2 linked regions of the Homo sapiens genome follow. Each later gene encodes a partner of the first gene's protein in a complex. Each region holds a gene or a part of one and is shown on either strand. Other genes may lie near its edges.

Region 1 (4,395 bases):
TTTTCCCTAGCACTTACCAATGGAGAGCAGTACAGCATGTTGTAAAAAAACCAAACAAACAAACAAAAAAAATTAAGACCTATTTCTACAAGTTGTTTTTGTTCAAAGTGCATTTGGTGGAGATGAGTATAGCATCCTAGAGAAGCTGTTTCCACTATCTTCATGTCCACAGTTCTACCAATAGTTGGCACTTATAAGTTGTCTGGTAACAGAAGTCTGATGCTTTTTAACCCGATGCTTGAGTATCAAGCTGAACTAAGTGTTGTTTTGCTTACCTAAACAGTAAACTTCTTATGAAAAGTCATGAATGACTTTTCACCCCCTGAAATCCCAGCCTAGCACCTATTAAAATGTTGTAAATTACAAATGTTATATTTGCCTAAATTAACTTCTATATGACAGAGTCATTTATTCAATTTTTATTCTGTGCATTAATGAAGCACGGAGTGATTTTTATAATAATTAAAAAATCCTTCCTTTAATCACTACAAGCTCACAAGAACCCTCAGGGTTGTTAGGCATTAGCTTTCAAAGCTACCAAGAAGCACCGTGAAGGTCTCAATAACAGGAATAAGTACTGGTTTAAGTATACTATAATCTCTTGGGGTTTGTTTAAAGCAAGTTACTTTTGGCAGCATTACTATTCATTCAATAGACAATCACGATAGACATAATGAACAGATGTTTCCTGATAATCTCTTTACTTCATGCCAATCCCAGCTTTTCCTATAGGATCTAATTGGTCAATGTTCCTTTAAGTACTGATACAGAAACAATAACTCAAAAGAATGTTGTATTGTACACTCTAGGATGCCTGAGTATTTGCTTCAATGGGATATAATTGTTGAGTCCACTATTACAACAGAATGTAAAGAAATGTGGGCCATACCTTTTTTTCTTGTGGCTGCTTCAGCCTAAAAAGATGGGGGAACTTAAAATTCAATCAACAAAGGATTCACAATAACAGGTTTTTCAGTCAAGACACCCCAGTTACAGACAAAAGCATTAGGCCTGTGTATGCTAGTACAGTTCCTACAATCCCTTATATGAACTCTTTGGAGACAGACATATCTGGGATTCAGAGCTGTATGCACTTTATGAGGTACATATATACCCTGTATTACATAAAACCCTCAGCAAAGTCTGTGGCAACTGTGCAATGAATAATGAAGTTCAACAGGAAACAGTTTAGTCACACTAAGTGCAAAATGAAGGCAGCAATTCTGGTCAGGGTTCACATTTAATTAGCTCAACAACAGAAAATCTTTTGTTTTCGTAGTTTTTGGATTTCAAAAAATGGATAAGAGACTGTAATCTGTTTTCTGCGTTTGCAGTCTTCATACTGTGATGGAAATAATGGTTATGTTACAACAGAACTTCAGTCTAACAGTTTCTCATCTTTTAATACTATTTATGGTAAATACATATATATAACTTACTTGCAATTTAAATTACAAAATTCATATACAAAGTAAGCAAAAAGGCACACATAAGAAATCCACCTTGACCACAGAAATGTGAAAACACCAGCCCTAATGACCAAGACAATGTTTCAAAGACAACAAACACCAAGAAAAGTTGAGATTCTACAATAAATCATATTAAACGCAAGCACTATGATGCACAGACGTGAGCACTGAATATTTACTAAAGCATAAAACTTAGGAAAAATCATTTTACGGGGAATCTATTCATATTCCAAACAGCATTTTAAAAAACATTAAACTTAGCTTAGTTTTAAAAACAAAATTCAGACCCAAACAATCAAGAACCAGAAAATGGGTTTCTTACCTTTTGTTTCCAGTAGGATGTGGGCTGAACAGCAAGGTGGGTTATTCAATCTGATGTTATGAAAAGTAATTGCTTCTTAAAGAGACTTAAGTTTTTCCTTGGTTAGAAAATAATTATAGGCTCCCTAAAATATTCTAAGGGGACATAAATAGGGAGAAGAGGGGGAAATTCCAAGACAGCTTTTGTAGTTTCAAAAGGGTGTAACTTTCTTCTAATAATTGCCAATACGGATAGAGACCTAAAGGTCCATTTTCTGAGACTATAAATAGGAGCAGTCCATACTTCCCATCACAGCTTTTAGCTGTCTGGTCATCTTAACTACAAAACCTATGCCCCTTTACCTAAGTAAACATTAGATCCTCTCTAATCTTCAAATTCAGCCTGTATAACAAGGAATACTGTCTCATTTCAATGTGAGGTTAGAATTACTATAACTTTTAGTAGAGCACATCTTTCAACTTTAAACACTCAAACTTGAGTGAAGGCCATTTACATTTTTTGGTCATTTCCAAAACATTCAATGAACACAAATGAACCAAAGTTTACTTAAGTCTAGCTCACATTAACCTTCCAAAATTATCATTAATCATTTATTTTCCCTTTAATAATCTGATGAATTTTTAAAATGTTCTACACATAAAACTTCTTAGAATTTCAAGAATGTCATGTAAAATTATTCAAATTTTTAAACAGTAAATCTGCCTTTTGGCCATTACATTGAATTCTTAGATAAAAAGAGCTACATCCTTAAACTTACACTAAGTACTTAGTGAAATTCTGCATTCAACTTAACATCCCCTCTTCCCAACATTCCACAACGTTCATTAAAATCTACCGATTGGGGTGACCTTACACATTTCTTCCACTACCAAGATTTCTGGTTTTCCTTAGGTTTTTAATTGTCACCCAAATAATCACCTTAAATTCAACTTCCAACTATGATTAGCACCCAAGGGAAATGTTAAAGTCTATTTATTTTAGGTCCCCTCCCCCAACCTAAATAGTACCAAGGGGCTGTCAGTAGACAAATACAAGAAGTAGCAGGCTAAAAGTTTTTAACTGCTTTGGTAGAGAACACCAAAGTTTTTGGTACAAAATAATCTTATGGTTGGAGAAGGGCTTATAAGGCAAAATTCTAAATGCCCAGCTTTTTATTAACAATGATTCATCCAAAGAAGCAGTTAATCTTGTGCACTCTTCCCTTTCAAAAAAGAAATGAGACTTGGGTTAAAAGTTCTACAGGCTGAGCATGGTGGCTCACACCTGTAATCCTAACACTTTGGGAGGCCAAGGCAGGCAGATCACTTGAGGCCAGGAGTTTTGGGACCAGCCTGGGTAACACAGAGAAACCACATCTCTACTAAAAATACAAAATTAGCCGGGCAAGGGTGGCACACACTTGTAGTCTCAGCTACTTGGGAGACTGAGGCACGAGAATCACTCAAATCCAGGGGTGGAGGTTGCAGTGAGCCTAGATCACACCACTGCCCTCCAGTCTGGAGAACAGAGCGAGACTCTGTCTCAAAAACAAAAAACAGTTCTAATACATCTGTGCTGATGTTAACATTTAATACTTACCTTTTTTTGAGATGAGTTTCATTGAGAATATCAAAAGCTATCTCCAAGTGAACATTAGTAGCCATCAACCAATTTTGCACAAAAGCCTATGTTGTCTATGACCACCAGAAAATAAGCAGCATCTATAGTTTTTTAACCACTTTATAACAAAGTAGAGAAGCTTATCTTTCAGATGCTAGATCCATCCCCCACCGTCATTTACCAAGTTACATACACAAATGCCTTATTCTCCCCTTTTGCTTTCCCCTGAAGACTTTTACAATTAACAATAAAAGATGGCTAATACCATTAGATTGCCTTTTAAGAACTTTTAATTTGCTAACACATTAACACAAGAGTCAAAATCTTATCTTACTTAACAATTTAAAGATTAACTGATAGACCCAGTTAGAATCTTACATGAAGAGGAAAAAGGACAACCATGCATAGTTTTTTAAAAAATGTTTATTTTTTCAAAGAAAACGGCAATAGCCAATTGGAAACCTACTTATTCTTCAACTCCAATTTTGTTTTCTTTAAATTTAGAAGTGACTTACTGATTTACTATTTTAAACAAACCCCCCCTTTCCCCTTTAAATGTTTACCATCTACTCGTGCTGAATCCTTCCAAGGAGATTGCTCCAGCGTTTATCTCCAGGTCCTCGCTTTGCTCCTTTTACCAAAAAACGCAAAACACAATTCCATCGTGCATCTTAAGGGCTCCAATCGTCAAAAATAGGAAAAAAAAAATCTTTGGAATAGCCAATTAAGTTGAATAAAAAAATCCACACGAATGCGGTTTGGTTGGGGCAGGAATCCACTCCTATGTTCCTGGTAATCTGATCCCGCTCCATGAATCCTGGTAATTCATCCTCCCTATCCTATCCACATTATGATTTGAATCCAATGATCCAGCTCCAAGGATTGGGATCCAGTGAGCCCTCTCCAATCCAAACCTTTATAACCAGCAAAACCAAAAAAGAGGAGGCAAAATGTTAGATACTGTAATCAAAAAAGGTTTCTGGGGAATGATGAGTTATGTCTGTC
Region 2 (8,260 bases), on another chromosome or scaffold:
ATTACCTAAATCTAGGGAAAGTATGACATTTGGTGTTAAGATAAAGAACTTCCCAGTTTGATTGTATGCTCAGGTGAGAAGCACTGGAAAACAACCAGATCCCCTAAGATTTGGCTACAGGAAACTTTTGAGTTAATGGGGGATGAAAAAGAACCCTTTCCCTATAGAGACTTCATCTTACAGTTTTAAAATACTGTAACATTTTGTATGTGATTGTTACAATCCCTCTTTTTTTGTGGTTTCCCTTTATTATATTCCAGGATAGCATTTCACTTTCAATCCCTGAAAAACGTTTTTAAAATTAGGTTCCTTCTAAGTAGTTGTAGTATTGTCACCACCCAAATATATATGACAATTTTTTTGAAACAAAAAAAATCCTAGCAGAATTATTTTGTATCAGTTCCACCAAGATTTCAACTGATGATTGCCAACTAGTTTATAAGCTCTTTGAGGGAAATTTTGTTTGCTTGTTTTTGATACGGAATGGAATCTCACTCCTGTCACCCAGGCTGGAGTGCAGTGGCGCGATCTTGGCTCACTGCAACCTCCGCCTCCTGGGTTCAAGCGATTCTCCTGCCTCAGCCTCCCAAGTAGCTGGGATTACAGGCGCCCGCCACTAAGCCTGGCTTTTTATATTTTTAGTAGAGATGGGGTTTCACCATGTTGGCCAGGCTGGTCTTGATCTCCTGACCTCAGGTGATCTGCCTGCGTCGGCCTCCCAAAGTGCTGGAATTACAGGTATAAGCCACCGCACTTGGCTGTTTTTTTCTTTTTTTAATAGACTTAATTTTTTAGAACAGTTTTAGGTTCACAGCAAAATTGAGAAAGGTATAGACATTTCCCACACATATAGCCTCCCCCTTTATAAACATCACTCCACCCTGCCAGAGTGGTACATTTGTTAACAATAGAACCTACGTTGATATACCATTATCACCCCAAATCCATAGTTTAGTTTACACTAGGGTTCACTCTTGGCATTGGCATTGTACATTCTTTGCCTTTGGACAAATGCGTAAGCAAGGAGAGAGAGATGAACAGGCAAAACACAGAGGATTTTTAGGGCACTAAAACTACTCTATTTTAATGGTAGATATACATCATTACACATTTGACCTGTGTTCAGTTCTGTTCACTTGTAGTATCTCTAGTTTAGCAATTCCTGACATGTAGTAAGATAAACTAATTACCCATCTGACCTTAGTCTGGCCCTGAAAACTAGTGTACCATTCTTCCTGGCTTCTTGAATTCAAGATAAACACTTGCAGTACTGTTTTTGCAGTAGACATTGTGTCCTAGCCCCAAACAAATCTTAGCAGTGAGGACTGTTTCTACTTAGAAAATTACACCACCCAACTCCAGCAGATTACTATATCATCAAAGATTCTAAGATTTGTGTCTTCTGCAAGTCAAGACATTCCTCGTTTTGGGAAGGTAGAGCATGGCACTGTGGAGGAACAGTTCCAATACCACTTCAACTGACATTCTCCCCACCTCCATCAAACAAGAGCAGCATACAAAGCACATCATTATGAGCAAATCCAAATTTATTTTAATGTCATGTCATTTTCAATGTGTTTAAAAACCTCATAAGTTAGTGGGAGCCCTAGTTTCCTGGGACAGCATGCCAGAGGTACTGAAATTTGTCACCTTTCTCTACAAACCCCCAGCAATCCAATCCAAGTCCATAGCTTCAGAAAGCCAGGAGTTGTGTCTTCAGTCAGTCTACGCCTCTGGTTCTTGGTTTTTCTTTCATGGGAGGGAGATCACAATATTTCAAACAGGGAACAAAACCAGTTGAGCTTCCAGCTCAGGTCTGTGTAAGATGGAGCGAGGAAAGACCCCACTGACTCCAGAGAAAAAGGGTAAGGTTGAGATGGATTATTTCTTTACAGCTTTGTGAAAATGGAAGAAAAAAGATTTACAAATGAGGATCCATTTCATAGATGAGAATCTCTTCATAAATGAAGGCTCCAGCTCCTAAAATGGGAGGGGCCTGACTGGACAGCCTGAATCAGATGAGGAATCGGCCACACTGAATAAAAACAATCTGAAAAATAATCCTCTTAATTTTGAAGCCAGATAAAATATTTGGGGAGAATGGAAAAAAGAGGAAAAAGCCCCAAACAGATGGAAAAAATGCTGACATCAGAGTGGTATAAAAAAATTCGGCTGAGTTTTCAGTGGTGGTGGCTAATTTAGCCCTGTTCTGTAGTGGGGCACAAACCTTGACCAAGCAGAGAGTAGTAGAAAAGGCTAGAAAGAGGGGCTTGAAGACGATGAATTTTGACTCCTGATTTTATTATTCAATTTCTTTTTTTCATTTAAAGTAGTCTTCCGTGGTTGGGAAGCCTCACCTCCCAAGACCAGAGTCAGTTGGAGCTGGTTGTTGTTGGAAGGGAGTGGGTTGGGGAACTGGGGTGGGGGCAGGGAGATCCCCCCGCTCTGCTGGCGGTCCTAGGTGGAGAAGAACTGCACTTCACAGAGTCTGGGGTTTGGTGGGAAGGGGATGAGGCAGGAGCAGCAAGCTGGGGAGATGGGACCCACCTCAGTCCCCAGCTTCATTTTCTTCTAATGTTTCCCCACTGGTGGCATTCTCTGCAGTCTTGGAGGCCTATATGCAAGAAAAGGAGAGGGAGAAGACCTGTCAGTTTCTAACTACTTGGGGATGTCTGGGACCAGAGATAAAAGTATTTTTTTTTCTGAGACAGTCTCACTCTGTTTTCCAGGCTGGAGTGCAGTGGTACCACTTCCCTGGGCTCAGGTGATCCTCTCACCTCAGCCTCCCAGGTAGCTGGGACTATAGGCATATGCCACCATGTACAACTTTTTTGTATTTTTTGTAGAGATGAGGTTTCACCATGTTGCCCGGGCTGATCTTGAACTCCTGGGCTCAAGTGATGCTCCTGCCTAGGCCTCCCAAACTGTTGGGATTATATGTGTGAACCACCACACCCAGCCATAAAGTTATCTCAATCCTCTGGGTCACAGCTGAAATAAAGACATACAGGTCTCTGACTTACAATGGTCAACTTGTGATTTTTCAACTTCACAATGGCGTGAAAGCAATATGGATATTTCGATACATGATAATTTGTTCAATAAATGTTTTGAGCACATTCAAGGTAGGCCAGGCTAAGCTATGAGGTTCATGGTAGGTTAAGGTACATCAAATCCATTTTGAGCCAGGCATGGTGGTGGCTACTCAGCAGGTCAAGGCAGGACAATCACTTGAACCCAGGAGGAGTTTGAGGATACAGTGAGCTATGATCATGCCTCTACACGTCAGCCTGGGTGACACAGTGAGATCATCTCTTTTTTGGAGACAGAGTTTCGCTCTTGTTGCGCAGGCCGGAGCGCAATGGTGCGATCTCGGCCCACTGCAACCTCTGCCTCCCAGATTCAAACAATTCTCCTGCCTTAGCCTCCCGAGTAGCTGGGATTATAAGCGTGTGCCACCACACCCAGCTAATTTTGTATTTTTAGTAGAGACGGGGTTTCTCTCTGTGTTGGTCAGGCTGATCTCAAACTCCTGACCTCAGGTGATCCATCCGCCTTAGCCTCCCAAAGTGCTGGGATTACAGGCATGAGCCACTGTGCCCGGCCAAAGCAAGGCTGGGCATGGCAGCTCATGCCTGTAATCCCAACAGTTTGGGAGGCTGAGGTGGAAGGACTGTTCAAGGCCAGGAGTTTGAGACTCTGTCTCTTAAAATATATATATATATATTTTAAAATCCATTTTGACTTACAGTATTTTCAATTTATGATGGGTTTACTGGGACAAAGTTCTATCATATAAGTTGAGGAGCATCTGTATAAAAATCCGTATTTCACTACAACTTAACACAGTGGGAGAAAGAGGGATCAGGTTCACCCTGCCAGAGAGGAATGATCGTTAATAACACACCTTCTTTTTTTTCTTTTTCTGGGTTTTTCGACTTGCAGAACTCTGGAGGAGGGCCTGGAAAACAGGAAGAAGGGAAAAAAATTTTGAGAAATGTGGAGGAAATTAAAAATAAAGGGTTACTTTCAGTACTGCAGCTCTTTTCAGGACTTTGCTGGCATTTAGCCCTCACTCCCAAGCAGGATACCATGTACATACTCACCACCTTCTATTCCATACTAACCTTTAGCTCTGCATCCTGGACCTCCATCTCAGACTTGTAGAGGTCAGGCTCGAAGGGACCACTGGTTATCCGCATGGGGCCATTGGGCATGAGCAGAACTGTAAATTTAAACTGGGCAACAAATTCACCTATGGCAAAAATGAAGATGTGTTTTGATAAAAAGTTCCTTTGTCATACTTAGCTCTTCTGAACTTACAGGAAGGATATCTTATAATCAGGGAATCCAAAGTGAAGCTCTTTTTGGAACTCACCCTCCTTCTCATAGAGAACATTAAATGGTTGCAGCAGTTCATGTTTGGCGCACTCCACCACACCCATCCGAGCCTTCTTCTCATCTTCAAATGCTCTGGCAGGGAAGATGATATTCAGAGGTATCTTTAACTCCCCATCAAGTCTTACCATTTTGCTCATATTTTAAAATAGCTCCTACCCTCAGGCAGAAATCATGCTTAGGATTGCTCTTTTACATTACCTTCAATGAGAAGGAGATGGGGAGAGAGAGGGAGGGAGTGAGCACATGCACGCTACAAGTCTAGGCAGGAAGGGAGAGGAAAAAGTGTTCCTGGGTGTATGGTCTGTGAGTCAGACTGGTTCCAAGTACTATCATTGCTTAGTACCTTAAAGTAAACGGCATGGCATCAAAACGCCTTTCCACCTCACTGAAGAAGGCACGTGAAGTTTTCATTTTCAGTCCATACTGTTTAGAGGGGTCTCGTTTGTAAATAGTGGTTCTCTGTCCTGCATCCTTGGCCTGAAAGAGTAATTTAAGTAACATTTGGTCTGGTGAACACTCTCAGTCACCCCTCTTTGCCAACTCTGGTACTCTCCTCACCTTGCCCTCTCCTGAGCTGACGAGAACATCCACAGCATATACTTCATGTACCTCAAATTCAGCTTTTTCATGGTCCTTCCTAAAAGGAATAGAGAGAAAGGAATTTTTTTTTTTTTTTGACACAGAGTCTCATTCTGTCACCCAGGCTGGAGTGCAGTGGCACAATCTCAGCTCACTGCAACCTCCACCTCCCGGGTCCAAGCAACTCTCCTGCCTCAGCCTCCCAAGTAGCTGGGACTATAGGCACAAACCACCAGGCCTGGCTCATTTTTGTAGTTTTTAGTAGAGACAGGGTTTCGCCATGTTGGTTAGGCTGGTTCTGAACTCGTGACCTCAGGTGATCCACCCGCCTCAGCCTCCCAAAGTGCTGGGATTACAGGCGTGAGCCACCGCGCCCGGCCTAGAGAAAGGGAATATTAAGAGCAACAGGTCACTCCTGAAAACATGGAGTAGAGGGCGGACAAGATTCAGTTGGGAGTATAGAAAAAAACCTGATGACTAGTCTTGTGTGGTAGAAGGTAATAAGTAGGGTTGGCACCTACTTCTGCTGGTCTGTGGGATTCTGGATAATGGTTTTTTCTCCATCGATGACATGCTGCTTCAACTGGTGTGACAGCATACCTGTAGATAGTACACAACCTATGGAACAAGCTATCCAGTATCCCAAAAGGTTTCCAAATCCACCCACTTCAGTAGTTTGAAGTGGTAGGCAGTGAGACAACTACCTGGTTATGGAAACACAGGGCTCTGAGATTTCTGGCTTAGACTGGGTTATAGCCAGGATAGATCTTCAAGGGAGCAAAAGCCTCAATTCTGCAAAGCCACTCATTCTTTTTTTTTTTTTTTTTGAGATGGAGGAGATGGAGTTTCGCTCTTATTGCCCAGACTGGAGTGCAGTGGCGCAATCTTGGCTCACTGCAACCTCCTCCTCCCGGGTTCAAGCGATTATCTCGCCTTAGCCTCCCAAGTAGCTGGGATTACAGGCACCCACCACCACGCCCAGCTAATTTTTATATTTTTAGTAGAGACGGGGTTTCACCATGTTGGCCAGGCTAGTCTCAAACTCCTGACCTCAGGTGATCCGCCCACCTCAGCCTCCCAAAGTTCTGGGATTACAGGCGTGAGCCACCGCACCTGGCAAAGCCACTCATTCTTAGACCCTCAACCCTGTTATCTGTTCTCACCTTCTATTGGCGTGCAGTTAAATGAGTGGGCAACTTTGTTCCAGGCTTCTGTCACTTGTGTGTTCTAGAAGTACAACATCAAATGAAAGGTGAGATATCAGGAGCTAATAAGTTCTCTACAATGAGAATAAGAAGCATAAAAGAACTGAGCGTTTTTTTTTTTTTTTTTGAGATGGAGTCTGGCTTTGTCACCAGGCTGGAGTGCAGTGGCGTGATCTTGGCTCACTGCAATCTCTGCCTCCCGGGTTCAAGCTATTCTCCTGCCTCAGCCTCCTGAGTAGCTGGGATTACAGGCACGCAACACCACGCCCAGCTAATTTTTGTATTTTTAGAAGAGACGGGGTTTCACCATGTTGGCCAGGATGGTCTCGATCTCCTGACCTCGTGATCTGCCCACCTCAGCCTCCCAAAGTGCTGGGATTACAGGCATGAGCCATTGCACCTGGCAGAACTGAGCGTTCTAATATCCTCCATCAAGCCCCAATGATTGTCATTCACTGGTTTTTCATTTCATAGCTTGATTATCCCTACAATCTAAAAATACTTTATACAGATGCTCCCCAACTTGCAATGGGGTTACATCTCCAAAAAACTCATAAGTTGAAAATATCACTAAGTCAAAAATGCATTTAATACCCCTAACCTACCTAACATCACAGCCTAGCCTATGTTAAATGTGCTCAGAGCACTTAAAAAACATTATCCTACAGTTGGGCAGAATTATCTAACACATGCCTATTTTATATTAGTGTTGAATATCTCATGTAATTTACTAAATACTATATGGAAAATGAAAAACAGAATGGTTGTATGGGTACTCAAAGTATAGCTTCTACTGAATGTAGCATCAAGCTGAGGACCAGCTGTAACTGCATATCATTTTACCCAGTGCTTTCACAAAGATGGTCTAACTCAATAAATTTTGCATGTGAACAGGGCAGATGTATATCCCAATCTAGAAGACAAGGAAACTGAGTCTCAGGTTAAATGATTTGCCCCAGGTTAAATGAGTGTTAAGTGAAAGAACTTGGTCATAAACCTGGGTTTTCTTTTTTCTTTTTGTAGACGGGTCTCGCTATGTTTCCCAAGCTGGTCTCAAATGCCTGGGTTCAAGCAATCCTCCCACCTTGGCCTCCCAAAGTGCTGGGATTACAGGCATGTGCCACCACATGCCTATAATATTAAGTCCAGTGTTTATCCTTTTTTACCTGGCATTCTAATCTGTTTTGTGGGGACAGCAAATGCTTATTTTTCCTTTTTCTTTTGTGAGACAGGGTTTCATTGTTGCCCAGGCTGGAGTGCAGTGGCATGATCATAGCTCAGCACAGCCTCAATCTCCCAGGCTCAGGTGATTCTCCCACCTCAGCCTCCCTGGAAGCTGGGAATACAGGCACATGTTACCACGCCCAGCTAATTTTTGTATTTTTTGTAGAAATGGGGTTTCACCATGTTTCCCAGGCTGGTCTTGAACTCCCAGCCTCAAGCTATCCTCCTACCTTGGCCCCCCAAAGTGATGGGATTACAGATGTGAGTCACTGTGCCCAGCTAAATATAGCTAATTTTAAAAAGCTGTTTTATAAGGGGTCTGTAGGGGAGGTTGGTAGTTTCATATAGAGTAGCTATAGGTGCCTAATGCATCTTTGGTTCAAACGAGCTTTGGAATTGGATAAAATAGCTTACCTGATTTCCAGGTTTGACCAGGCGTAGGGCAGCTTCAGCACAAAGGTGAGCTGCCTTAATAACATCTGCTTTCCTCCCTGTTACTTGGGTCCCCTGTAGATAAGGACATGCAATCAGTATCTTCCTGGAAAGTCTGTTAACTCAGCTGGCTATCTGGTTAATATCTGTGAGCCCATATGCGAAGACCAGCCAATGAACAGGAGGGTAAAAACAACAACAACAACAAAAACCTTTCTCCTTTTGCTTCTCTAGAGACTCTCTCAACTTACGTGGTGATTGGGGGTGGGGATAAGAAGCAAATGGCAGTGCATTCCCTCTACCCCAAGGCTAAACAGAGATCAAAAGCAGGCCACCTACCTGAGCTACATCAACCACAAAAGTGTGAGCTACATTAGCGATGAAGCCATCCACATGGACCCCAAGGTCACTGAAAGGCA

Evidence for each region.
Region 2: SRSF1 (region 1) and PA2G4 share a complex: the UniProt entries of both Homo sapiens proteins name them as parts of the ribonucleoprotein complex.

Annotation. Positions count from the first base shown.
Region 1 is NC_000017.11:57,999,698-58,004,092, forward strand, and holds the end of SRSF1 (serine/arginine-rich splicing factor 1), read right to left. Parts: 3' UTR 1,222-4,395; downstream 1-1,221. UniProt on the Homo sapiens protein: Plays a role in preventing exon skipping, ensuring the accuracy of splicing and regulating alternative splicing.
Region 2 is NC_000012.12:56,107,177-56,115,436, reverse strand, and holds the end of PA2G4 (proliferation-associated protein 2G4), read right to left. Parts: intron 8,251-8,260; coding exon 8,181-8,250; intron 7,917-8,180; coding exon 7,824-7,916; intron 6,208-7,823; coding exon 6,144-6,207; intron 5,581-6,143; coding exon 5,502-5,580; intron 5,039-5,501; coding exon 4,960-5,038; intron 4,879-4,959; coding exon 4,745-4,878; intron 4,474-4,744; coding exon 4,379-4,473; intron 4,256-4,378; coding exon 4,128-4,255; intron 3,962-4,127; coding exon 3,908-3,961; intron 2,615-3,907; coding exon 2,549-2,614; 3' UTR 1,527-2,548; downstream 1-1,526. UniProt on the Homo sapiens protein: May play a role in a ERBB3-regulated signal transduction pathway. Seems be involved in growth regulation. Acts a corepressor of the androgen receptor (AR) and is regulated by the ERBB3 ligand neuregulin-1/heregulin (HRG).